4 linked regions of the Homo sapiens genome follow. The protein of the gene in region 2 purifies or fractionates together with the protein of the main gene of each other region. This does not show direct contact. Each region holds a gene or a part of one and is shown on either strand. Other genes may lie near its edges. The genes, in order: POLR2M, RPRD1B, GPN1 and RPRD2.

Region 1 (7,033 bases), on a different chromosome or scaffold from region 2:
TTCTTAAGAACTTATATGCCAAAAAAAGAGCAAATTCTCCAAGCAAGCAACAGAAAAAATATGAATGAGCAATTCTCAAAAGAATGAATATAGCATGGCCAATGAATATGAAAAAAAACACAACCTTCACTAAGTAAGAAAAACAAATACAAATTTTAAATGTAGCCCTTTTCTGTAATTATTCAATTTGCAAAGATTTTAAGTAGTAATTTTCAATTCTGAGCATTGGATATATTGCTAATGGGAATGTAAATGAACATGATCTCTGCAGTGAGTAATATATATAAAAATTCTCAAAAACACTTTCACCTAACAATTTCATTTTTAGAGCGGTATCTTCTGGAAATAAGTCATTTTCTATGGATGTGATTAAGATGTTAATCATATCACTATTTACAGATTACATTATAATACATAATCAAATTGCTGAATAGGAAATAAATCTTAAAGTTATGGTATACCCATGAAATAAAATATCCTACAGCTGTCTAAAAAGCAAAATATTTAATATGGGAACATATTGACAATATATAGAGCAGACTACAAAGCAATGTACATTATGATTTCATTTTTGAGAATATAAATGCATAACTATGCATAGAAAAATAAGCAAAAACACAACATCAAAATGTTAACAGAGTTTATCTCCCTAGATGGCAGGATTACAGGGAACTGTGTGTCCAGGCACATGAACTCTTCCATATCATCCAGCTTCCAGAAATAACATCAAATTTTACGCTGTGAAATCATTTACTATTCGTTTTAAGAACTAAAACTAATGAGAATCTTAGGTCAGTATACTTTTCACATTTGCTTGAGGGGGGTAAGGAATGAAAGCAATAATTACACCTGGAAGCAAATGTGAACAGTCTTTTTCGAAAGGAAAAAGTTGTATTTAATTAAGTCCCGGTAAAACATCACCTTAGCATTTGAAGTTGTTCTAATTAATATTTTATTCTTCAACACTTTTAAAGACTCCAATATATTAGACAAAGAATTTTTTGATAATGTAAGTTAATTTCTCTGGAGACAACCATATAATCCTCTAAAATGACATGAACGTTTATATATGGGACTGAAGCTTCTGCAGTCTATATATACCTATTTGGGGGGAAAAAAGTAAAGTACTGACAATTCAATTTTAACAAAAAAAAAATGCTTTCCTTATCAAACATTAATGTTGTGTACATGAACCTATCATCTGTGACAGCAAGGAACTCAAGCCAGGTGATGCACAAGCCTTCACCCAGCTCAGTTAGCTTGGGCTTCTCCTGTACCAGATTTGCCTGAAGTAACATGAGGTTATTTAAAAAGACCTCCACCTAGATTGCAGTGAGCCGAGATCCTGCCACTGCACTCCAGCCTGGGCGACAGAGCAAGACCCCATCTCAAAAAAAAACACAAAACCAAACAAACAAACCAACAAAAAAAACCTCCACTTTCCAGCATCTACTCAAAAGGGAAGTCCTTCCTAATCAGAAGAGAGATAACGTTCTTCCTAAGGGAAGACAGAAAAAGGAGAAGAGCATTTGTTAAGCATTCTCCATACATGTCTTCCTAGGTATTTCACATCCAATGTCTCAATAACCCCATGCAAACATGCATACAATTCTTTAGACTGCTCCCTTCATTACCCAAAAAAGAAGGGAACTATGTCTTCCTAATTGATTTTAGGTGCCTGGAACAACTAAGTATTTCACTGAAAGACATGTAATAAATGCTATTTGATAGGTAAGAAAAAGGAAAAAAGCAAAGTTACCTCTTTTCATTTGGCTTAAAGAAAAAAAAAGTATGTTCTACTATATACTAAAATATCAGACCAATACACAATATATTGCAAAATTTTAATACCATGTGGTTAAACACAATATTCAAATATTAAACTTTTCAAGCACATGAAAGTCACCTTCTGAAAGACAAACTGGGCTTTTTTTATAACTACCTTTGTGTAACTTTATAAAATTACTTCCCTCAACAATATCTGACACTGATCTTGATACTAGTTAGAAAGTCTGATGTAAGATGATGACATCTCAACGTCAGTGATTTAGGAGATTATCTTCAGAATTCATCAGAGGACCAATCGTCATCTTCATCCCTTACTTCTCGGTATCTCCCTGAAGACTCCCCTTCTGGATTATAACTCCGCATTTTAATATTCAGTCTTTCAGCTAATTTTTGCGCTGCGAGCTTTGCTTGCATCTCCTTTAAAACAAAGAGCAAAGCACAAAGTTACACGTTCACATCTCTTCCTTACAATTTTTCAATGGGAAGTTACCTAGAATCAGCAATAAGAGGGACACTGACACCTCACTGAGTGCTCCCTTGGGCAATACAAGCCTGATGGCTGTGCCCTATCAGACACAACTGGGTAATGCTTCTGACAGCCACCAGCCTGCTACAGTTGAAGTTACTGACCTCCATTAATATACAACATTGCACTGAAATACACTCCTCTATATAAGAAACTGAGTAATGAGCTTAGCACTACAATACTTATAAATACAGATGCGTTAAATATGGGGGCACATGCACATGTATACACACTCACATAACAATTTGACCTATCAAATGTCAAAAATGACTAATGCTGGGGCCCGGTGCAGTGGCTCACGCCTGTAATCCCAGCACTTTGGGAAGCTGAGGCAGGCGGATCACGAGGTCAGGAGATCGAGACCATCCTGGCTAACACGATGAATCCCCGTCTCTACTAAATATACAAAAAATTAGCCGGGCGTGGTGGCGGGTGCCTGTGAACCCGGCGTGTTCCCGGGTTCACAAGAATGAACAAGAATGGCGTGAACCCGGGAGGCGGAGCTTGCAGTGAGCTGAGACTGCGCCACTGAACTCCAGCCTGGGTGACAGAACAAGACTCCGTCTCAAAAAAAAAAAAAAAAAAAAAAAAAAAAAAAAAAAAAAAGAAGGACTAATGCTGTCTAGATTTCTACAACTGACAGGACCTTCTTCCCTAATTACAATCATGACTTCCAGACTTGGGAATTACATTTCAATGGCAAAATGAAAATCAAGAAATTAATACTAAAAAGCTGACTATTCCTCTCCAAATAAAGTCCTACAGCAACTAGTATCCAATAAAAAGTCCAAGTAAATTTCAGACACTGGCAATGTACTTAAAAACTCCCAAGGACTTTACCACCAACTGATGGTAGGTGGCAATGTCATTCCTAATTCAGTTCTTCCCTTTTCTCATGCTTTCTTGAACTTCTTGATGTCCTCCTCTTCAAGCCATGAATATGGGTCAGTAAAAGTGGGAGCTATTACCACTACAACTTCTCTGCTAAAAAAAAACAATTTAAAGATGAAGGGTTTAATTCAACCTAAAAATATCTTAGGACAGGCATTTAAGAGCTCAGAGACAGTAAACACTTCCTCAATGCTACAGCCATAACTAGACAGTCATTTTAATGCACTGAAAGAAAAATGGTTTTTTTCAAAAAGAGCACCTTGATAATGCCAATCCATGCCAAGGCTTTTATGAAAAGCCAAAGCAGATTAACAGCCTGTTTTGTTGTTTTTTTTTTTGAGACAGGGTCTCACTCTGTCACCCAGGCTATACAGAGTGCAGTGGTGTGACTGCGGCTCACTGCAGCCTCGACCTCCTGAGCTCAAGCAATCCTCCTACCTCAGCCCCACAGGTAGCTGGAACCACAGTTGCATGCCCCAATGCCCGGCTAATTTTTTGGTAAAGATGGAGTCTAGCTATGTTGCCCACGCTGGTCTCGAACTCCTGAACAGTCTGGTGTTATACTAGTTGGTGCACTAGTACCTGACTAAAATCTAGCTAATCAATACCTAGGAAGTGAGACAGGATACTGTTCTCCTGGAGGCTAAAATTATTACTAAATACTTCTAAACTTTTCTGTTCCCCTATGGTCCTTCACACTTATTTTCTCCCATCCCATTATTCTGTATACAAACTCTCAACATACATGTTTGAAGTTCAATGCAAAACACATGGAAACAAAGTGCTATGCAAAATTGATTAAGCTGCCAAAAGCAGGAGATATTTCTCTCTTCACATGGGCCTGCAGATTATGCTCTAAAGCAGTGTCTCACTGTCTGCTGGCTACACAACATTATCCTCCCACTCCTTCTATGCCCTCCCCTGTACTGCAGAAGATGGAAGCCTGGGAACTACATTCTCCTCATTCTCTAACAAGGGGTCTGGGTTTGAGTCCGCCACTGAGAAGCTGTCACATGAGTTTTACAAGGTGAAAGGGAGAGATGCGATGCTACTACTATCCTAACAGGAACAGGCAGGTAAATGAGCTTTAAGACATGAAATTCTACAAGTCTCCCCACATCTCCAGGCAAATCACCACTTTAATGTTGAAGGTAGCTGTGATCATCTCTAGCTACTTCCTGCAGTTCTAGCAACTTTGTGACTCTCTGAAAACTAGTGGCATAGATCTGAGCTCATGGAAGCACCTAATCCCCTCTATTCCATTCCTTCCTCCTTGAACCTGGAGTAAATTCTAGCTTATGTAAGCAGCACCCAACAAACAGACAAGAAAAAAAATACTCTAAATACCTCATAATTCTGTTTCTGCTGTTTCTGAAGTGCCAAGGATTCTTCTATGGAGAGCAGCTGCGTGGGCATATGGTGAAGTGGTAGAAGCCGAGCTGCTGTGATGTCATCAAGATGCTGCTTATCCCTGCGCCGCCGCTCTTCTGAGGAAATAGGAGACCCACTCTTCTGGCAATGACTAGATGAATCATTTTGTCGAAAAGGTAACCTGATGAAAGGAAAACTTGTGTTATACAATCAGATTATTTTATTTGTAGACACATTTAAAACATTCACACAAATGGCCTTTACCTTAGCAATTAATTCTCCTCCAAAGGTAACAGTAAGTAATTTACCAGTATTCATTGCTCTAACAAATAGGGGTGTGTTTGTGTGCATACAGGCTCTTTGCCTTTTCCTTCCTTATTCAAACCTTGTATTTCATCTGGAGTTTTTTTTTTTTTTTTCATTTATTCAAAGAACATTTGCAAAAGGGCTTATTGCCCAGTAGAAAGAAATACACATGTAAAGTTTCAGTGCAATACAATACCAGAGATACTGTGATAGATATCTCAACAAGATACATTGGAACATAAGGAAATGGCCAGTTCTAGTGGGAGACAGGGAGGCTAAGAAAAGTTTCAAAAAAGCTTTGAACAGTCTTGGAATAATAACTGCTTACCCATGTAAATAAGGAGAGAAGTGCATCCCAGCAAGGGGAGTGAGAGAAAGTACAGAAGGTAGACAGACTCAGCTTTTCTGGCTACACAGAAAAGACAGCGAGAAAGAGGGCTGGGAAGTAGCCTAGGCCCAGACTGCAATGAAGAGTTCTCCGTAACAAGTTCGGATTTCCATCTTACAAATTTCACTCTGGCAGCAGTGGAGATAGACTGGTAGTTAAGACTAGAGGTAGAAGGGGCCACAATTACAGCCCGAGAGAGATGAGAGTCTTCACTTCGACAGAAGATGAAGAACAATTATAGAGATGAAGATCAAAGAAATAAGTAGGTCTTCATGGCTAGCAGATATGGAGATGAGAAAAATCGAAGATACCTTAGGGGAAGAAAACCGAGAAGGTGGTGGCACTATTAGGGAATATGGAAATCACCTTGGAAAGAAACTGCAGTTCCACTTTGTACATCATTAAGCTGAGGTACCTGGGAACACCCAAGTGATCAAGTTTCATGGTTAATTGGCTATGCAAACCTAAAGTTCTGGGAAGATCTGGGATAGAGGTGCACAGGGGTCAGCCTCCAGCATCCAGGTGATACATGAAGCCAGAAGAGTATGCAGAAGGAAGAGCAGAAAGGACCCAAAGGACACTACCTGACCCCACCTTCCAACCTCCAAGCCACCTCTCACACGGAACCCTCTCAATCCCTACCTGTCTATGGCCTAAGGACTCCTCAAAGCCCTGCCTTTCCTGTTCTCCTCTAACTTATACAGGAGGCTCCCTGTCTCTTAAACTTCCTGAATTCTTGGTAGCCCTCTTCACTATTCCCTTACCTCTCTCCCACTCCCAGCTAAATGACCATAATACAGAACTGGGATTAATGTATTCTTTGTTTTATTTATTGACTAGATGATGGTTCTAGTTTTCTAAAATGTCATCCTGGAAGTGAAGAAAGATACCCCACTGTACACAAGAGAGTACTTGATCACGTTAATGTAGTATAATCCTGATTTTCTATACAGCAGAAATAAAATGTTTTGAGGTTAAAATGAATGCTGGGGTAGAATTAAAGTCTAACAAAAAAGAAGCATGTTTTAGATACTTTTCACTAGAGGTTTTCTGTTTTTCAAAGAAAGGTAGTAGTGATTTAACTTTGATGTTACATACTTGTAAATACAATATAGGAAGAAGGTACCAGTTACCTGAGTTGAATGTTACATTTGCTGCAAGTAAATAGCAATTATTTTCAAAAAGATTTTACTTTTCCTGAAATTTCAGAAACAAATTTATGGCAAGGAACTGATAAGCAGAGTTTTTGCCTATCCTGCCTGAATCTATTTTCACAGTTTTTCAAACCTCTTCTCAGCTTCCTTCCCCCTGAAACTGTTATTATTATGTAGCTTAACTCTTTTCCAAGTGTGTAAACCTTGGGTCCTCATGTAGCTCTTAAACTCCTTGAAGAACATGGTATTGTATTACATTACACATGTATACATTACAGCCATGTTTTTAAACTTGAGATTTAACATCAAAAAAGGCAAAGGAGTTTTAAGAATCTTGACTTAATTGTGTCCCCACAACACCTGCTGCTTGCTTACATACAGTGAGCATGCAAATAATTTCTGCTGGAAAGCCCATCAGCTCCTGCAATTGCTTTACCCTTAGTTCACAGACTAATCAAAGAGAGTACACTTTGATAGTACACTAATCAAAGCTGTACACTAAAAAATGGTTCTGAAAAAAAGAAGTCATAATAAATTCTCTCCAACTCTGTGTTTATTATGAAATACTGGCTAAGCATCCTAAAATTTAACACTCCCCCATGTGCTTTA
Region 2 (7,033 bases):
TGTTAATGTCTGTCTAGACTTTCAAAAAAAAATCAGAAACCCACTGAAGCTATTCCCAATACTATCACTGCCACAAATTCCACACATTCCCAGAGTGCAAACCTATTCCTCACTCTTTTCTCCCTCTTTCCTATAGCATCTAGCATATCTGTTTATTCAAAGTATGTGTCCAGCAAATGTACATTAAATTGAAATTCAACATTAGCTTCAAACATCCTCTTTCAAGGCTCTCCTACTTGCCCAAAGGTGTTCTTAAAAACCAGCACTGTTTACCAATGAACTCTAAGGCAGAGTAAAGAATGCTGAGTAATTCCCCAAAGCTGTACTGAAGACCTCCAAAGGACACAATAAAAACACCAGAATCCAAAGCAGGAAACATCTTGCTTTTCAGAAGCTACCAATCACCTGAGTGATCCTAAAATTATCTTCTAGCAACACCAAGTAAAACAACAATGACCTGCAGTCTGAAAGCACTTATGTCATTCACAGAAAGCCTCTAACCTTTGGTTTCACAGGAAAGTTACCCACTGCAAAATGCAAATAATTCCAGACCTGGAAAGGATCATGAAGGGTACACAAAAGGGTTACTCAGTGAAGGATACTGTCACACATGCTAATCATGACTAGGTTCTATAGCAGATGCATGTATAAAGTACCAGAGAACAAGGAGGGAATGACCACATGGGCCCAGACAAGCCAGGGAAGATGTCAGAATGAGAGTTGCATTCTTGGAGAATGAGTTCATCACACAGTGAAAGCGGTAGAAGGACATCAAGTAGAGGTAACAGCAGATGGAAAGGAAGCAGTGCCAACAGAGCATCCAGAGGGTAAACTGTCGGCAATTCAGTTTGGCCAAAGAATACAGTGTAAGTGAGGAAGTGGCAGGAGAAGAATCTGGAAAAACAGGCTAGTTCAGATAGAAAGGGTCTTCAATACTATCAGTACTTGGACTCGATCCTCCAGGAAACATGTATGCAGGCAGATCAGATCTGTAGCTAAGAAACATGTCATGCCAACTAGAATTAAACCACAACTAACCAGAAGCCAAGTAACTAAACAACATTTGATCTTACTCTTTAAAGAAAAAAATAGGCCAGGTGAGGTGGCTCACGCCTATAATATCAGCACTTTGGGAGGCTGAGGCGGGTGGATCACGAGGTCAGGAGTTCAAGACCAGCCTGGCCAAGATGGTGAAACCCTGTCTCTACCAAAAATACAAAAATTAGCTGGGCATGGTGGCAGGTGCCTGTAATTCCAGCTACTCGGGAGGCTGAGGCAAAGAACTGCTTGAACCCGGGAGGCGGAGGTTGCAGTGAGCTGAGATCATACCACCGCACTCCAGCCCAGGTAACAAAGCAAGACTCTGTCTCAAAAAAAAAAAAAAAAAAAAAGAAAAAAAGAAAGAAAAAAGAAAAAATAATATAAGCTCTTATTAAGGGCTTTGCAAAATTCACACACAGATGCACTTCCTAAAGATATCCTGGGTTCAGTAAAGATCAAAATCAGTTTTAAGCTGGGCGCAGTGACTCACACCTGTAATCCAGCACTTTGGGAGGCCGAGGCGGGCAGATCACTTGAGGTCAGGAGTTTGAGACCAGCCTGGCAAACATGGTGAAACCCCGTCTCTTCTAAAAATACAAAAATTAGCCGGGTGTTGTGGCAGGTGCCTGAATCTCAGCTACTCAGGAGGCTGGGGCAGGAGAATGGCTCGAACCCAGGAGGCGGAGGTTGCAGTGAGCCGAGATCACGCCACTGCACTCCAGCCTGGATGACAGGGTGAGACTCTGTCTCCAAAACAAACAAACAATCAACTTTAGACAGACACCATGCTGACAATCCTAAGGATATGTTTCAAAAGCACATCTACATTTAATTAAATCAAGTTCTTAAAAAGCTAAGAAACTTATCCAAGGTCCTATTGTAGTTAATGGCAGAGCAAGGACAAAATCTTAGTCCAGGCTACTTCCTAGTTCACCACAACTCTGAACAACTTTGTTGTTCCTTTCCTTGTGCAAGGAAAGTCTCTGAAAGACAGAAGCAAGCCAAGGAGAACAGAGAGCAAAAGTCAGGGTGTGAGAGGATGAATAGCATGAATACTAGAACCAGGCTTACACGCTGTGAGCACTACATAAATTCTCACCATCATTCATGATCATCTGTCTCTCTGAAGAATCATAAAATCGCTGGTGGTTCACAGCAAACCCCACTGCAGCTTTTCATATTTGATTCGAAAGTAGGCAAAGACCAAGAGCTGTAAACATGTGGTGATGTTTCTACCTTTGGGGGGAGGGCTCTTGGAGTCCTCCATAGACAGCTTCAGCTGCTGTATGAACTCGCCGCCATACACACTTCGTTCTTGCCAGATGTTCAGCAATCTTTCTAAAGGTTTTTTACAGCCTTCATCTGCCTCTCTGCCCAGAAAAGATGAAAAGATATATATAAGCTTAAGATTTTTTGCTTTTAATTAGGACAGACCTACTTAAAAAAAAAAGAAATCAACAACTGACTAAATGATTTACACATTTAAAACCAAATAAGGTACATATTGTAATACCTGGATACCCAAAACTTGACCACAAACTACATTCTTCGTGCAGTGGGAGGGATCATGCCATAATTGAAATCAAATAGGACCAAAAGTCAATGGCCAATTTTTACAGACAGAAAATTATCAAAACTCCATCTTATCAGTTGTGATAGCTTGCTTTTTAAGAAGACGTTAATTAAAATGCCAGACATTCTGCTGGAAATTAAAAGTGGATCAGAACTCTTAAAGATAGAAAAATGATTTTAAAAAACCAGATGTTTAAAACAGGAAATAAATTCACTGCAACTCATCAATTCTAACACACCAACACCTCTACATGTATAAACACAATCACATACATGTATATGTCAAGAATCATTCCAGTTCTAACCACTGCATAATTATTTTAATTCTGGGCTAAGTCCATAGTCCAGGTTCACACAAAGGTATCTGATAATCTTAGAACACACTTAATAATGCAGTCCTTCATAATTTATATCAAAGGATATGAATTAGAAGTTAGAAAATGTTTTCCCCTGACATGTTAACTCCTGAAACAGGATATAAAGGACTATAACTAGCACTCACTGAGAACCAATTGCCTACAATAAAATCTCAGACAGCAAGCAGAAGATTGGGTTAGACTTTCTGAAAGCAAAGTGAATTCAGTCACCATGCACTGTTACCATGAAATCTTCTGTTTTGTGAGGGGGTTTAAATGGCAACGATCTTATACTGAATGACTTTAAACAAGAAGGGATACCTCGACATCTTAGTATCTAAGTTAAATGGCTTTTAATAGGAACTTCAAGGAGAAACCATGCCAATTCAACTGAGATGGGAACTCTATTCACACCCGACCATGACAACGCTTTCATAAACTCAAGGAGAACTTAGGTTTCAGCCTAGCCCAGTCAGAATGTCTCACTTATGAATTATTAGTGGTAAATTTCACTGACTAAAGGACTCAATCAGAGTACATAAAAATTAATTCTTTTTTTGTTAAACTTTTTAAAGTCAGAAGTGAGGGTTCGGGAAAAAAAAGGAAAAACATTTCTACTGCTAATTTTATAAAGCTTAAAAATATGACCCAATTACTTGGTATTTGTGATAAAACACTTTTACTCCACCTTCAAAATATATCCGGAAATGAGTTATTTCTCATCTTTTCCTCTGCTATCAATCTGGCCCAAGGCACTATCATCTCTCGCCTGCATTACTACAGTAGCCTCATTACTGGTCTCCTCGCTTCCACCCTTGTCCTCCTACAACCTGTTCTCGAGTTTTCAAAATACAATTTTAGCTGCTGTACTAAGGCAGACCACGTCACTCCTTTGTTCAAAATTGCCAACATTTCTTCCCAGTATCCCTCAGAATAAAAGTCCTTATAAAGACTCCAAGGCCTTTCCCAACCCAGCTGTTATTTCCCTGGCCTCATCTCCTACCCACTCTTCCCCACCCCCGTCCTCCAACCTCCTGCCTCAACAACAGCTACCCTAGCACTGCCTCAGAGCCTTAGCACTTCAAAAGTTTGCTTTGCCTGGAACCACATTCCCCATGTGGCCACACAGCTCAATTCCTCTCCTCCTTCAGGGGTATGTTTAGTTACACCACCTTCAGTGTGTCATTCCCTAATCTCCACGTTGAAAATAACACTCCCTGCCCCTACTCAATTTTTCTCCATACAACTTTTCTGGTATGCTGTATATTCAATAGTTTACTTTTTGTTTACACGCTTTCCATTTGAATGTAATTTCCACAGGGGTGCAGATTTGTCATTTTCTCCCATTGCTATATGCCCTTGAACAAGCACAATGAATATCTGTCAAATTGTAATCTTTTCCAGAAAAATGTATATGGGTTTCGGTAAGTAATACAGTTACTTAACTTTCAACAATCATCTTACTGTATCAAGGTCATGGCAGAAATCAACTAAGCACTCCTCAGCTCGACCAATGAAGGTTTACAAAGAATAAGAAGGCCTGGGTCCTGACCTCTAGGGCTCGACTCAGCAATCCCTCAGACCTGTTTTTAGTCTCCTTTCCCTACCCTACCTGGAACTTTGCATTCCAGCAACACCCACCCGTATGTATTTGCTACTCAGAATTTGTTCTCTCATGTGCATGTGCCTTTGTTCATGCTATCTCTTCTCCTTCAAATGGAATAGCCAAAATTGAACAAGGCAAAGGGAAAGGAGTAATTCAAGTAGCTGAAGTATATGGGGGAATGTGCGGAAACTGCAGAAGAATCTGGAAGGAGGGTGGAATTCAATTACAGCGAGCCCTGAATGCCATATTAAAGCACGTGGCCTGCAGGCAATGGGAGGTCCCTAATGTGAGCAAATGTATAGCTTAGAAAAATAAAGTCATTATAATTAGTAAAACCAAATTGCAACTAATCAGAACTTAGTTAATGAACTAGCTGGTACTTTTAGCATAAAATCTGTTTGCTGCAGATTCTCTGTTCGCTTAAAAGAAAGAGAAACCAGTCTCGAGAATAAATTCTTATCAAGGACTTAGTTTAAAAGTAGGTGGGTATCACAACACACACCCACCACCCACCATTCCTGGAGATACTTGGGACTCCATTCAGGCTAAGACTGGTTTTGTGTACAGTTTCAGGCACAGTGGAAAATGATGCTCAAACCTGTTATAACCACAAAACATTTTCAAAAGGCTTTTACTACTAAAGGCCAAAAGGGGGGTTCTAGTTTAATTAGTGAATATAACTAACCAGGACAGATATTTCCTTGAACATTGTGGTAAATCAAAGTTTTGCTAGATAAGTTTCAAAGTTATACATAAAATATTCAAGAAATCTTTCTACTGATTAGGTTTTGAAGGAAGTAGCTCCAGCGAAATGGAAGTCACTTTGGCATCTGGAATTAGATACAACCAAAGTAATAAAGCCGTTTTATAACAGAAAGAGAAATATTTTCAGGTTGTACTAACTCCAATCTAAACTGAGAAATCTTTAAGTGGAAAAAAAGACTGAACAATCTTTGCCAACAATCTATGAATAAAGTGGAAGATGGCAAATAATTACATACACAACTTAATATTACGTTGAACACTTCATATTTTAATTCTGATTAATAACAAATTCAATCACTTTATTTTTCAATACAGATAGCAAAACTGACCTTTAAGAGTGAAAAATGTATATGATACACACAAACAGAATTGGCTGCTTGACGTGTCAGCTGGACACCTGAGTCCCTGCAAAGCCAGCCTTGGGGGCCTTTTCTTCCTCTACAGTTCTATGGCACTTTTTCAGTACAACCACAGTAATTTGTACAACTCTGTCTTATCTCATGCACAGCAGGCCTATGGTAGGCCTACTAAGGGCAGGAATTCTAAGTATTCCCTACACTTCCAACAGTACCTCATGTAAAGCTGGTTCAGAAAGGAGTTAACACAGAAGGCCAGACTGCTACCCTTAGGGAAGTGGTCTGGGAACTTGGGATTTCCGAGTGTCCCTACCATTTCCTAACTGGTAAGGGTGGTTTACTGGGCCTAAATTGTTTGTGCAAGCAATACGGTTCTTAATGAACACCTGAGCCTGGCGCGGTGGCTGACGCCTGTAATCCCAGCACTTTGAGAGGCCAAGGCGGGCAGATCACAAGGTCAGGAGATCAAGACCATCCTGGCTAACATGGTGAAACTCCGTCTCTACTAAAAAATACAAAAAATTAGCCGGGCATCATGGCGGGCGCCTGTAGTCCCAGCTACTTGGGAGGCTGAGGCAGGAGAATGGCATGAACCCGAGAGGCGGAGCTTGCAGTGAGCCAAGACCAAGCCACTGCACTCCAGCCTGGGCGACAGAGTGAGACTCCGTCTCAAAAAAAAAAAAAAAAAAATGAACACCTGATTTATTTCTGGGAGCTTAGAATTTTGGCAGAGGGTGTCTACATGACCAATCCAATAAAAACTCTGGGCACAGAGTCTTTAATGAGCTTTCCTGGTAGGTTACACATCATACACATCACAACTCAGTGCTAGAGGAATTAAGCGTGTTTGTGGAATAACACTGAGAGAGGACTCGGAAGCTTATACCCAGAGCGCTCCAGTCTGCTGCGGGTACTGCATGCACATCACCCTCTGCTGCTGCTGCTGCTTTGGATCCTTTAGCTGTAATGAATCACTGCCATGACTATGACTACATGATGAGCCCTGTGAGTCATTCTAGGGAATCACCAAACCTGGGAGTGGTCTTGGGGCCCACAACAATAAGTAAATATCATGTGGGTAACTCTCAAATTTATGTCTCCAGAAATCAAGTCTCTACTGAGCTTCAGACTATTTTATCCACCTGCCTATTTGGCATCACTCCTTGGAATATTCACTAGCCACCTCACACTCGGCCTGGCCAAAACAAAACTCGTGATTTCCTCCACCAAATCTTTTCCCCAATCTTCACTTCAGTAAAGGGCACCATCAGTCATTCCTTACATCAAAAACCTAGAAATCGTCTTTGATTTCTCTTTTCACTTACTACCAGCTCCCA
Region 3 (7,033 bases), on a different chromosome or scaffold from region 2:
GACTCTGCCTCAAAAATAAATACATACATACATAAATTTCAAGCTGGGTACAGTGGTTCACACCTGTAATCCCAGTACTTTGGGTGGCTGAGGTGGGCAGATCACTTGAGCCCAGGAGTTCGAGACCAGCCTGGGCAACACGGCAAAACCTCATCTCCACTAAAAATACAAAATTTAGCCCGGCATGGTGGCAGGCACCTCTAGTTCCAGCTACTTGGGAGGCTGAGGCAGGAGAATAGCTTGAACCCAGGAGGCAGAGGCTGCAGTGAGCCAAGATCACACCACTGCACTCCAGTTGGGGTGACAGAGCAAGACCCTGTCTCAAAACAAATACATAAAGATGATTTGTTTTAAAAAAAAAAAATTAAAAAGAAACAGGCAAAAACTCTTGGTCAAAAAGGTTGGCTAAAATAACAAAAACATTTTAAAAAGAAATAAGAAAAACCTATATATGGAAAACTGGAAACACTCCTGAAAGACACAAGTAGACCTGACAAATACAAAGACACTCTGTGGTCTTGGGTAGCAAGACTGAACATCATAGAGATGTCACTTCTCCCTAAATTAATTATGAATATAATGTAATCCCAACTAAAATACCAAAAAGCTTTTTTAAGGAACTAGATAAAGTTGATACTCAGTTCATATGGAAGAACATGTAAGGACAGCCAAATAAAAATTAGGAGGAGAATCTGATCTAGCAGATATTGAAACATAATTACATAATTAAAACAACATGGTACAGGCATAAAAGTAAGGAGTCCTTGCTCACCAAAGCAAGTTAAAAGAAAAAAAAAATGGGCTGGGGATGGTGGCTTATGCCTATGATCCCAACACCTTGGGAGGCCAAGACAGGAGGACTGCCTGAGGCCAAGAGTTCAAGACCAGCCTGGGCAACATGGTGAGACCTCGTCTCTATTAAAAATTTCCTTAAAACTAGCCAGACGTGGTGGCACACACCTGTAGATCTAGCTACTCTGGAGGCTGAGACAGGGGGAATGCTTGAGCCCAGTAGTTCGAGGCTGCAGGGAGCTATGATTGCGCCACTGCACTCCAGCCTGGGTGACAGAGTGAGAAACTATCTCAAAAAAAATAAATAAATAAACAGTCCAGTGAAATAATATAGAAGTATACTCAAGTATGCATGGAACTTTACTACATTTAGAGATGAGGTCTGAGGCTGGTCTGGAACATTATACACGTAGCATCTCAAATCGCTGTTACAAGCCAGGTGCAGTGGCATACACCTATCCAAACTAGTTGGCAGGCTGAGATGGAAAAATCGCTTGAGCCCAGGAGGTCCAGACCAGCCTCAGACCTCATCTGTAAAAAAAAAAAAAAAAAAAACACTACCAAAAAAAAAACTCACTAAGGCAAAGGCAGACTTTTAAATAAATCATACAGATACAACTATTTATGAAAAAAATAACACCGACTTATATACCTTATACTATAGCCAGGAATAAACTCTAAATTAATCGGGGATCTCAATTTAGAAAATAAAACCAGACAAATCTATAAAAAAAAATAGGTGAATTCCTCTTTAACATAGGTATATATAGAGGCTTCCTAACTGTGACTTAAAATCCCAGATGCAATAAAAGATAGATCAATTTGACTACATCAAAACAAAATAAGAACTTTTGCATGGCAAAATAACACCGTGAACAAAGTCAAAGGATAACTGATAGGGAGAAAATATTAAACATTTGCAACATATAATCACAGAAAAATTGATATTCCTATTATATCAATGGATATTAAAACTAATGGGTGAACATTAGAAAACTAAAAGGATATTTATAGTCTCAAAGCATCACCCCACAAAATTCTTATTACAAACAGAAAAACAGCCATATTTAAAAATAGTAATTTTTGTTGTTGTTGTTTTTAAGATGGAGGGAGTCTCACTCTGTCACCCAGGCTGGAGTGCAGTGGCGCGATCTTTGCTCACTGCAACTTCTGCCTCCCGGGTTCAAGAGACTCTCCAGCCTCAGCGAGTAGCTGGAATTACAGACATGCACGACCACGCCCAGCTAATTTTTTGTATTTTTAGGAGAGATGGGGTTTCACCATGTTGGCCAGGCTGGTCTCGAATTCCTGACCTCAAGTGATCCACCCGCCTCGGCCTCCCAAAATGCTGGGATTACAGGCGTGAGCCACTGCGCCCGGCCTAAAAATAGTAATTCTTTATGAAAAACGTAGCATACACCACTTTATAAAAATACTCAAAGTTAACATCACCAGTAATGGGACAAATCAACATCACGTGCCTCCCAATGTGATTCCTTGAAAAAACACAATTCAAAAATTAGTCACCTGAATCAAATCATGAGGAAACATGAGACAAACCTAAACTGAAGGATGCTCTATAAAATAACTATCCTACATGCTTAAAAAATGTCAGTCATGAAATACAAAGTCAGACTAAGGCACTGTTCCAGATTCTAAAGGAGTATAAGGCATGTGAGAATTAAATACAATGCACATCCAGATTTTCTCCTGCTATCATGGGGAAATGGCTACATCTGAATAAGATCTATATGTTAGCTAATATTATAGTATTATGTCAATGTTAATTTCCTGATTTCTGATAACTGCACTGAGGTTATATAAAATTATATCCTTGTTTTTAGGAAAAAGACACTGAATTATTCAAGGTAAAAGAGTATTATATCTGTAACTTACTCAAATGATTCAGGAAAAATATATATTTATATAACATATAAAGTCATATATAGATAAAGAATAAAGTAAACATGGTAGAATGTTAACATTTTGGGAATCTGATAGAATAATTATGGCAATTATTTGTATTATTCATGTAACTTCTGTAAATCTGAAATTAAGGTCAAACTGTAAAAAAAAAAAAATTTTTTTTAATTATAAAAAAAATTGAGGAGGGTTAAAAGTGTTAGAAACAAACAAAAAAAACCACCACAGCACACATCAAGTATATTGCCAAAGTAAAGCAAAAACTTCCTGAAAGAGGAACCCAAAGTGGTAGAGCTGTATATAATTTCAAATTTGCCTTTCCAAATCCTTTATTTTTTAATATATATGTATGCATATGTATGTGTGTGTGTGTGTGTGTGTGTGTGTGTGTGTGTGTATATATATATATATAAAACCACATTTCCTTTATCTTTTTCTCTTTCTCTCTCTCATATATAAACAGAATCCTGCTGATAGAAATAAGTGTAACCGGCCAGGCACAGTGGCTCATGCCTGTAATCCCAGCATTTTGGGAGGCCCAGGTGGGTGGATCATCTGAGGTCAGGAGTTCGAGACCAGCCTGACCAACATGGAAAAAACCCCATCTCTACTAAAAATACAAAATTAGCCGGGTGTGGTGGCACATGCCTGTAATCCCAGCTACTCAGGAAGGCTGAGGCAGGAGAACTGCTTGAACCTGGGAGGTGGAGGTTGTGGTGAGCCGAGACTCCAGCCTGGGCAACAAGAGTGAAACTCCGTCTCAAAAATAAATAAATAAATAAAAGAAAGAAGTGTAACCTTTTTTTAGTTCCTAACACCAAGAAACCCTCCAATACCTTTGGCAGTCCCTGCATCCAAGGCTACAGAACCCATATCTTTTCGAAGGCGTTCCAGTTGTTCTCTCTGCTGTTGGCTCTCTGCGTTGGCCTGTATATACAGAGAAAAATGTCATCATATTCAAAAAGGAGTCCCAAATTAGATGCCAGACTTCTCAGTGGAGATGAAGAATTATACAAATACTAGAGGCTACATAAAAACTGATGCAGATAAGGGACGTCTGGTATAGGGACAGAAACACTAAGTAGCGTGGGCCTGGGTTACTGCAGAAGTTTAGACTGGAGGGCTCTGCAGACTGATTTAGAGGGTTCAGAAACGGAACACAAAAAGGTTTCAAAAGAACCCTCAATTCTAAAGTGTTGAGTTCAGTCCAGGGTGGATCCCCTGCTCTGTTAATTGAACTGGAACATTTAAACTGGCTAGGCAAAATGCCTACATAGAAAGCATTACTCTTTATTCATCCCCAGCCTACAAAATGAAAAAACAAAAGATACAATAAACTTTATTATATGGGGGAAAAAAAACACAAAAACCTGAAGTAGACATAGCAGGAAGGCTCAGAGACAAAGGATCCAATGAGCCTAAGGAAGCAGGACACTCGATCATTTGGGATAAGAGAAGGCTGGGCATGGTGGCACCTGCCTGTAATCCTAGCACTACAGGAGGCCCAGCAGGGAGGACTGCAGGAGCTCAGGAATTTGAGACCAGCCTGGGCAACACGGTGAGACCTTGTCTATACAAAAAATTTACAAAATAAAATTAGCCAGGCATGTGGTACATACATGTTGTCCTAGCTACTCGGGTGGCTGAGATGGGAGGATCGCTTAAGCCCAAAAGGTCGAGGCTGCAGTGAGCCGCGATCGTGCCACTGCACTCTGGCATGGGTGACAGAGTGAGACCCTTTCTCAACAACAAGAAAAGGAGTTGTGAAGCACCACTACACTCTTATACAAAATTCTACAACTAGCTTTAAATTGACCTCTGAAAGGGAAGAAACATTAAGGAGACTTTCCGCACCCAGACAACATACATACAAATTTACAAATTTAAATTAACAAGTATTTAGAAGATACACTGAAATTTCATTAGCCACTTGTACCTCAATAAAGCTACAAAAAAAACTTTTTTAATTAAATAAAAGATACATTAATAACCAAAACAAAAGCACTTATGTCATCAAGATTGAGCTGGGTTTTTTTAATGGCCCTTTTAAAATATACAAACAGCCTCCCTTCTTACCAGTGATTTTTTCAGACGTTCATATTCAGGACGATACTCCCTGTAAAGAGAAACACTTTCTAAATTCCTTTGCTTAATCCTCTATCCTACTGACTCTCCACATCCCCTTATCTCTATTTTCCTAAGACTGACAATAATAAAACATCTGACTTCATTCAACATCAGATGTAACAAATCTTAGTCACTGACAGAGTCTACCCAATGGAATTAAAAGCCAAGGTGCCCGCTCCCACCTTGGAACCAGGAGACACAATCCTGACTGCTGGGCTGGAAAGATTAATATTGGTGAGAACATGACTGATGAACTCACCATTCATTTGAGATAAAAGGGTGAGATAAGTAAAAGATAAGCCTGTTGAGCTCAGGACGTGCAACATACAATTATGTGCTTTACTTGAACAACAACAGTGAAAGGATACAGAAAAGAGTCTATCCTAAGGTTTTGATAACACCCTTGTGTCTAATGAATCAAAATCAAAATAACATGTCTGAAAACCAAAATATGGTTGTTAGGATCTTGCAAAATATGAAGCCAAAGACACATGACACTAATAAGCCGGCTATCATGCCACAGGCCTAAGGAAAGTGCACAGGGCTCTGACTCCACTTTTCTTTACTTGAATTCCAGTATTAACAATGACAATAGTTATAACATTTATTATAAAATGTGCTTACTATATGTCAGCAATTGTGATAAGTGCTGTATACGTTTTCTCAATCTTCACAACAACCTTAGTGCCAAATCCAGCCCACTGCCTGTTTTCATAAATGTTTTTCTGTAACACTAGCCACGCCCATTAATTTACAAATTGTCTGAGGACGCTTTTGTCCTACAATGGCAGACGTGAGCAGTTGCAACAGAGACTATATGACCCACAAAGCCTGAGCTACCTACTGTTTAGCTCTTTACAGAAAAGTCTGATGATCCCTGCTCTTAATCACTCAATACAATGAAGATTTATACTTCTATTTAAAAAAAACAAAATTTAAAGGGAACTTGTCACCCCTAAGTGTGGTCTGATTCAATACACATATGCAAACCAAATATAATACATCCATCATGAAAATGTAATGCTTTTCCTGGAAAAACTGCTTTCATATCAGAATTGTAGGTTATTAAGAATGTCATCAATAGAATTTTCCTTTATCCTCACCTTTCATATTCTTCGGCAGCACTGGTAACTTGCACAAAGAGTTCATCTAATCCAGTACCCAGAACAGCAGAGACACCCACCACCTGCCAAAAAGCATCATAAATGCCACTAAAGAAACCATTGTATATTTTTTAATGAAGTACATTAACTTGTTTAAATGTCATAAAATCTTAGTAAGAGTGGTTTATATTTTGAGAAGTCTTTGGCAAAAAGCCAGGCTAAAAAAGAACAAAACAGCACACCCAGTCAAAAGTCACAGAAATAAGTCCATGGAAAATAAAAAATTGAAAAAGAAAGATATGGCCTGAGTGCAGTGGCACATGCCTATACTACCAGTACTTTGGGAGGCTGAGGCAGGAGGTGCACTTGAGGCCAAGCATTCAAGACTGGCCTGGGGAACATAGCGAGACCCCAGTCTCTACAAAATATAAAAAATTAGCTGGGTATGGTATACCGCACACGCCTATAGTCTTAGCTGCTTGGTAAGCTGAGGCAGGAGGATCCCTTGAGACCACGAGGTCAAGGCTGCAGTGAGCTGTGATCCTGTCACTACACTCTGGCCTGGGTAAAACAAAGCAAGATCCTCTCTCCAAAGGGAAAAAAGAAAAAAAAAAGATAATTAGGACTGAACAATTAACAGGACTTATTATCTATTCCCTAACAAACCAAACCAAATCACTTTCTGCTTTGTCTATGTCTTTCCTTGGGCAATTAACCCATTCTGCCTTTGCTTACATAAATCTTACCCTTCTTCAAAGCATACCTCTAATGCTACATCCTCCAAAATCTGTCATTTTGATCTGCCGCCTCACAATCATCAGGCCCAACTTCCAATCTTTCTTAAGGTACTTACTACAATATATCATATGTTTTAATTCTGTGTGTAGCCTTCTCTCCCAAATAGACTATAAACTCTGAAGCTGGGGTCCCTATCTTATTCTTCTTGTACACTCCACAATTTTTAATAAGCAATGCTTTAAAAGTTACTTTTCAGTAGGTAATAAGCTTCCTTTCTCAGCCAGGTTCAAAGCCAATCCTATGGGTTAACAGATTATCTGGAGAGGCTGTCAGTGTGAGCAGGAGAGAAA
Region 4 (4,953 bases), on a different chromosome or scaffold from region 2:
CTCAGATTGCCTTCAGTGACATTAAGTGCAGAAGTCAAAGGGGACATCTGGAAAAGATCAACAGGAGGGGAAAAGTCAACCACACAACAAAGGAAACCATACTTTATTAAACTGGAAAACAAAATAATGGGGACAAAGGGATTAAAAAAAAAAGGAACGTCTGGAAGAGAGTAAAGTGCAAGTGGTTACGAAGTGGGTGGTCTGTGGTATCTCTGTGTGTGCCTGAGAAATGTGTGGGCGCACACACCACTACTCCCACCCCCATACCCTTGGACCAAAAGCCAATACAACCATATCTTCTGAGATATATCCAGGCTTTTCCTTCTGCATTCTCTAGTTGGTTTCACCTTCGGCCCTGGACAGTCAGGCTGGGTCTTTGCTAGAGAAAACTTAGGTTTTCCAACCACAGGCCTGCTCCACAAAGCAGCGGTTTCAGCTCCTGAGAAGTTCCCTCCTATTTGCACTCACTAGGAAGCCAGGGGCCCCTGGTCCAAGCCCGTCTCAAAGAAAAATGTCAAACCTTTCAAACTAGTTATTTTATTAAACGATATTAACACACATTTCAAAAGGATTTCATTGTTGTTGCTTCTAAAGCATGTACTTGTTTTGTTTTCCACACCGAACACGTGAGAATATCAATCCAACATATCTATTTTAGATCTTAACAGGCGCCCCCGCCCACTTAAAAAAAATAGTGGGGGAACTGGGGAAAGCAGTAATTTACAGCGGCTTCAAAACAGTAACAGCTGAAGCTCAATTCTGCAGGAACCGGTAACTTCAGGATTGAGAGTGAATATCCTGCCATTAGGAAGTTTATCGTATTCACATTATCTCGATAGGTTTGCTGGACCCATATATATCACAAACATTTTATTCCTGGTATTGGAAAGTATAAAAGTCCTATTCTCTGCTTATTTTCCCCTCCCTGGAATCAAACCAAATTCTATTTACTCTCAACTTTTGAGAGGGTAGAGGGGAGCAGGGAGAGAGCTCTCATCTAAGCTGACTGAAGAGTAAACTCTTTCAAAATACTTAAGGACCCTATTTCTGAACTGTATCACTGAACTTTAAGTGGTACTAGTGTATTCACAACCCCTACCAATTCTCTGTCTGTGATTTTACAGTGAGTACCAAGGACCTTACAACTTCTCACATTCTGCTTCCATATGAATCATGTCCTTGCTAAGACACACTATGTTATGCTTTCTTTAAAAAATATCTTGTTTATTTGTTTAAACTCAGGTTGAAATACAAAAGTCAGAGCATGGTCACGGAGTTTTAAATCACAGACACAGAAAGAATAAAACCCCTTTCTTTCACGTTATGAATACCAGAACTGTCTTTTCTGTTTCACTATTTATCACATATATACACACTGTCATCTTCATTTACTGATGTAAATGTAAATTTTAAGATTTCCTTAAAATTAATAGCTGACAGTCTCATACAAATCCTCACTTCCATCCTAAAACAAACATATTGAGGATTTTGTGGCTTAAAAAACAAAAAAGTACCCCACAAAAACCCAACTCCTTAAAAGCCCACCTTCGAAACTGTCCAACAAAGTCTTCCTTTCATGTATTAACCATCATACTTTTGAGGACAATTATCCCGCCCCAACGTTCAGGAAGCCACTTTCCTGACATCCCCACATTTTCTGATAAAAATTAAATGGTCAGAGAGCCTTATCAAGTAAACACTACTTTTAGCTTAAACAAGAGCAGCAAAGAGAATTCACATTCTTTTATTCTAGAATGAAAAACATCCCATTTAATTTCTGCAAAAAAAAAACCTATTTCAATTTTGAAAGTCAAATATCATTTCCCCACCTCCCACCCCATTTTCTCTTATGCTTTTCCCTAACAAATGTCTTAGGACTCAATATAACTATACTTTCTTTTCTTTGCTACACTACATACCCCATCCCACACGTAAGGTCATGGTATCATGCATTTTTGTGGGGAGAGCTACAGGGCAGAGAGGGTCGAGGAAAGAAAGAACAGTTGGCTTAAGACCAGACAGGCATTAAGAAGATGAATGACCTGCAGCATCCTAACCCCAGAACACATGGCGAGCCCAAATAAATAACAGAATAAATTACGCAAAAACTCCCAAATCATGATGTGCACCTGGTTTATGCTGCTCTTTCTCTGAAAAGTTCATTCTGAGAGAATCATTTTCTGTCACTACATTGCCCACCCTCCCCCATCTTTAATATTCTACTGGAGGAAAAAGCAACCCCATACTTCCTATAGTTAGTTCTATACTAACTTGGAAGAAAATATGAAACTTGCCAGAATTCTCTGGAAAACTAAACACATACTGTTTTACTCATCTAGCTGGAGATTATCAGTTGAGTATGCCTTGGGGTAAGACACTAAATTAAAAAAAAATTGTAGTAAAGCAACATTTACTTTTCAGTGTCCCTAGATATAAAGATATAAACACTCAAAGTACAGTGATTGTCTATTTCCCAAGTACTAGATGTAGAAATACAAACAAGTCTTTCAGTCCAGGGAGAAGGAAAGCACTTATCTTGCATGTAAAACAACTAAGGGCAGAAATGGTCTTTATTTCCTATTGGGAGCGAGAGGTGGGGGTAAGACTTGAGCCTTGAAATGGGATAGACACATGTGTATAATATAAAGGAAAATGCTACTGAATCTCCTCCTTTAAAATATCAAGAATAGGGGTGAATAACACGACTGAGGCAAGGGGAAAAGGAAGATAAAGACAAATATTTCTTTCTTTAATAGTTAACCTTTGTTGAAAACCACCAATAAATATCACTTACATTAGGGAGGCACCATGGTAAAATTAATGTCTACTTCTTATATTTAAAAATGCAGGGATAATATTTCTGTTGCACCTTTGTATCAATAGTCAACTGTAGTGACTGTCTTTCTGGCCACAGCAGAAGAAAAACTGAGGGAGATAAAGTCAAAAAGGAAAAGCAAGAGGCATGAGCTTGGTGCAAGACATGTGAAACTACCTTGAAAACATTTCCTATTCTCTTGTTTACAAAAAAACAGGCAGGTCACATCACACCATTAATGCTTCCTTTCCTTATTTTACATACTGTAGTCACTCCTTATTTTAACCTTGAGGCTGATTAAAAAAAGATTTTAGGAGAAGGGTAAAGAACTAAACTTCAACATGCCTTTAAAAACAAAACAAATAAACCTGACAGGTTCAAGGTCTCTCACATTTCCTCCCTTGCAACATCTCTTGGCTGTTAGCAGGACACAGATACACAGGGAAGGGAGCCGAGCTGGCTACAGCAGTTACTAAGCTGCCGAGAGAGGGGACGGGAATCCTTCCATTGACTACTCGATAAGCCAAGCCCAAAATAACATCCCAACATTGCACATGTGGTTATCTGTACTGATGGAAGTTTTATTTCAAATGTAATAATACTCTTCAATAGATGGGGTAAAATAAAGATTGTTTTCCTCCCCACTCCCCAACCCCCCAGCCAAATGAAATGGCTTTGGTTGTGTTTCTTTACTTTTTTTTTTTTTTTTTTTTTTTAATACAAACAACTTGGGGAAGGTAGATAAGTGCAATGGGAGGGAGGATTGAATTGAATAGTAAAACGTAAGCGTATGTGATTTCTTACTTTGGAAGAGAGGCCCTTTGTTATAATAAAAAAAAAATCGAGAAAGAGAAAACAAATAAAAACAACAACAATAAACCAAACTCCTACTTCCAATGTTCTCTAGACTGTTCAAAATGCCTTTCCCTTGGTTTCCATCAGTACCTGGGAGGGAAGAATGGGCGTTTTGGTGCAAAGAACGGAGGGCCCCTAGCAAAAGGTGGCCTGGGTCTCTTTAAACTGTGAAATGGGTCTCTGCTGAGAAAAGGTTCCCTAGGCCGAAAGTCTGGCCGGGGACTCCGTAAGATTATACCACTCCGGCTGATGGTGTCTCTGTGTGAGGGACCCAAGGGGGGGCCACTGCTGCTGTTGCTGCCTCCCCCACCTCCTCCTCCATGGGGTGGGCCCAGGTGTTCCAGAGAATGGGAGGGTAGGGTGAGGCTCTCTCGTACACGGCTAAGGCCAGGGCCGTTGAGGTCCCGTTGGGTGGGGCCCCCGTGGTCCCTGGGTCCTGGGAGTACCCCAAAATGCTCAGCCAGGGTCCCTTGAAGGAGGGAACTATGGTCCTTGGGAAATACTGCCACAGCCCCTGCCACTCCGTGCTCTGCCAGTGGTGGGGCTGGGAAGGGTACAACTCCAGAGTGGTCAACAGGGGGTGGAGGAGGGGGTGGAGTAGAAAAGGGGACACCACTCCCACCACTGCTGCTATGTTCCCCAGGAGGGGGAGGAGGAGGTGGGGTAGGGAAAGGAATTCCACTGTGCTCTCCAGGAGGAGGGGGTGGGGCAGCATGGGCCAGGGCTGCCTCCTTTGTGAAGGGGTTCGAAAGATCCACAGAGGGTAGATGAGTGGGTGCATCTCGAGAGAAGATACCACCATGATCCTTAGGAGGGACAGGTGGGGCAGATGATGGCCCCACTGGCTCTCTCTGGAAGGGTGTCCCATGTTCCAAGGGGGATGGGGGAAGATGATGCTCAAATGTTGAGTTGAAACTGTTGGAACGAAAGCTGCCGACACTCTCCTGAAATTGAGGTGCCCGTTCCTTGTATGGTGCTGTTTTAAAGCCAGTGAGGCCTCCGCTGCCCCCACCCCCAAGGGATGCCAACTCAGAGGCACTTGAAGGGCCATTGTCAAAAGAGCTACCTGATGTGCTCAGATCAAACCAACCCACCCTTGAAGCCTCACGCCCATGTCCTCTATTTCCCTTCCCAGGAACTCGGATGGACTCTACGGTCTGGATCGGCTCCCCTGACATCCTCCTATTGGATGCACTGTGATAACCCAAGGTTTCTATAGGGGCCCCCTTTTCTTCTGTGCTATCAGGCAAGTCTAAGCAGGAGGAGGAGACGCGGGTTTCTAT

Evidence for each region.
Region 1: the proteins of RPRD1B (region 2) and POLR2M purify together in Homo sapiens (affinity purification with mass spectrometry; 5 studies listed by BioGRID and IntAct, with this or other methods). This does not show direct contact.
Region 3: the proteins of RPRD1B (region 2) and GPN1 purify together in Homo sapiens (affinity purification with mass spectrometry; 4 studies listed by BioGRID and IntAct, with this or other methods). This does not show direct contact.
Region 4: the proteins of RPRD1B (region 2) and RPRD2 purify together in Homo sapiens (affinity purification with mass spectrometry; 6 studies listed by BioGRID and IntAct, with this or other methods). This does not show direct contact.

Annotation. Positions count from the first base shown.
Region 1 is NC_000015.10:57,709,708-57,716,740, reverse strand, and holds part of POLR2M (protein GRINL1A), read right to left. Parts: intron 4,758-7,033; coding exon 4,553-4,757; intron 2,206-4,552; coding exon 2,062-2,205; 3' UTR 1-2,061. Other genes in the region: GCOM1 (GRINL1A combined protein), read right to left, coding at 2,062-2,205, 4,553-4,757.
Region 2 is NC_000020.11:38,043,726-38,050,758, reverse strand, and holds part of RPRD1B (regulation of nuclear pre-mRNA domain-containing protein 1B), read right to left. Parts: intron 2,414-7,033; exon of another isoform or gene 2,412-2,413; coding exon 2,278-2,411; exon of another isoform or gene 2,157-2,277; coding exon of another isoform or gene 2,141-2,156; intron 1-2,140. UniProt on the Homo sapiens protein: Interacts with phosphorylated C-terminal heptapeptide repeat domain (CTD) of the largest RNA polymerase II subunit POLR2A, and participates in dephosphorylation of the CTD by RPAP2. Transcriptional regulator which enhances expression of CCND1.
Region 3 is NC_000002.12:27,639,038-27,646,070, reverse strand, and holds part of GPN1 (GPN-loop GTPase 1), read right to left. Parts: intron 6,029-7,033; coding exon 5,946-6,028; intron 4,832-5,945; coding exon 4,792-4,831; intron 4,029-4,791; exon of another isoform or gene 3,902-4,028; intron 3,643-3,901; coding exon 3,552-3,642; intron 3,504-3,551; exon of another isoform or gene 3,179-3,503; intron 1-3,178. UniProt on the Homo sapiens protein: Small GTPase required for proper nuclear import of RNA polymerase II (RNAPII). May act at an RNAP assembly step prior to nuclear import.
Region 4 is NC_000001.11:150,472,135-150,477,087, reverse strand, and holds the end of RPRD2 (regulation of nuclear pre-mRNA domain-containing protein 2), read right to left. Parts: coding exon 3,754-4,953; 3' UTR 522-3,753; downstream 1-521.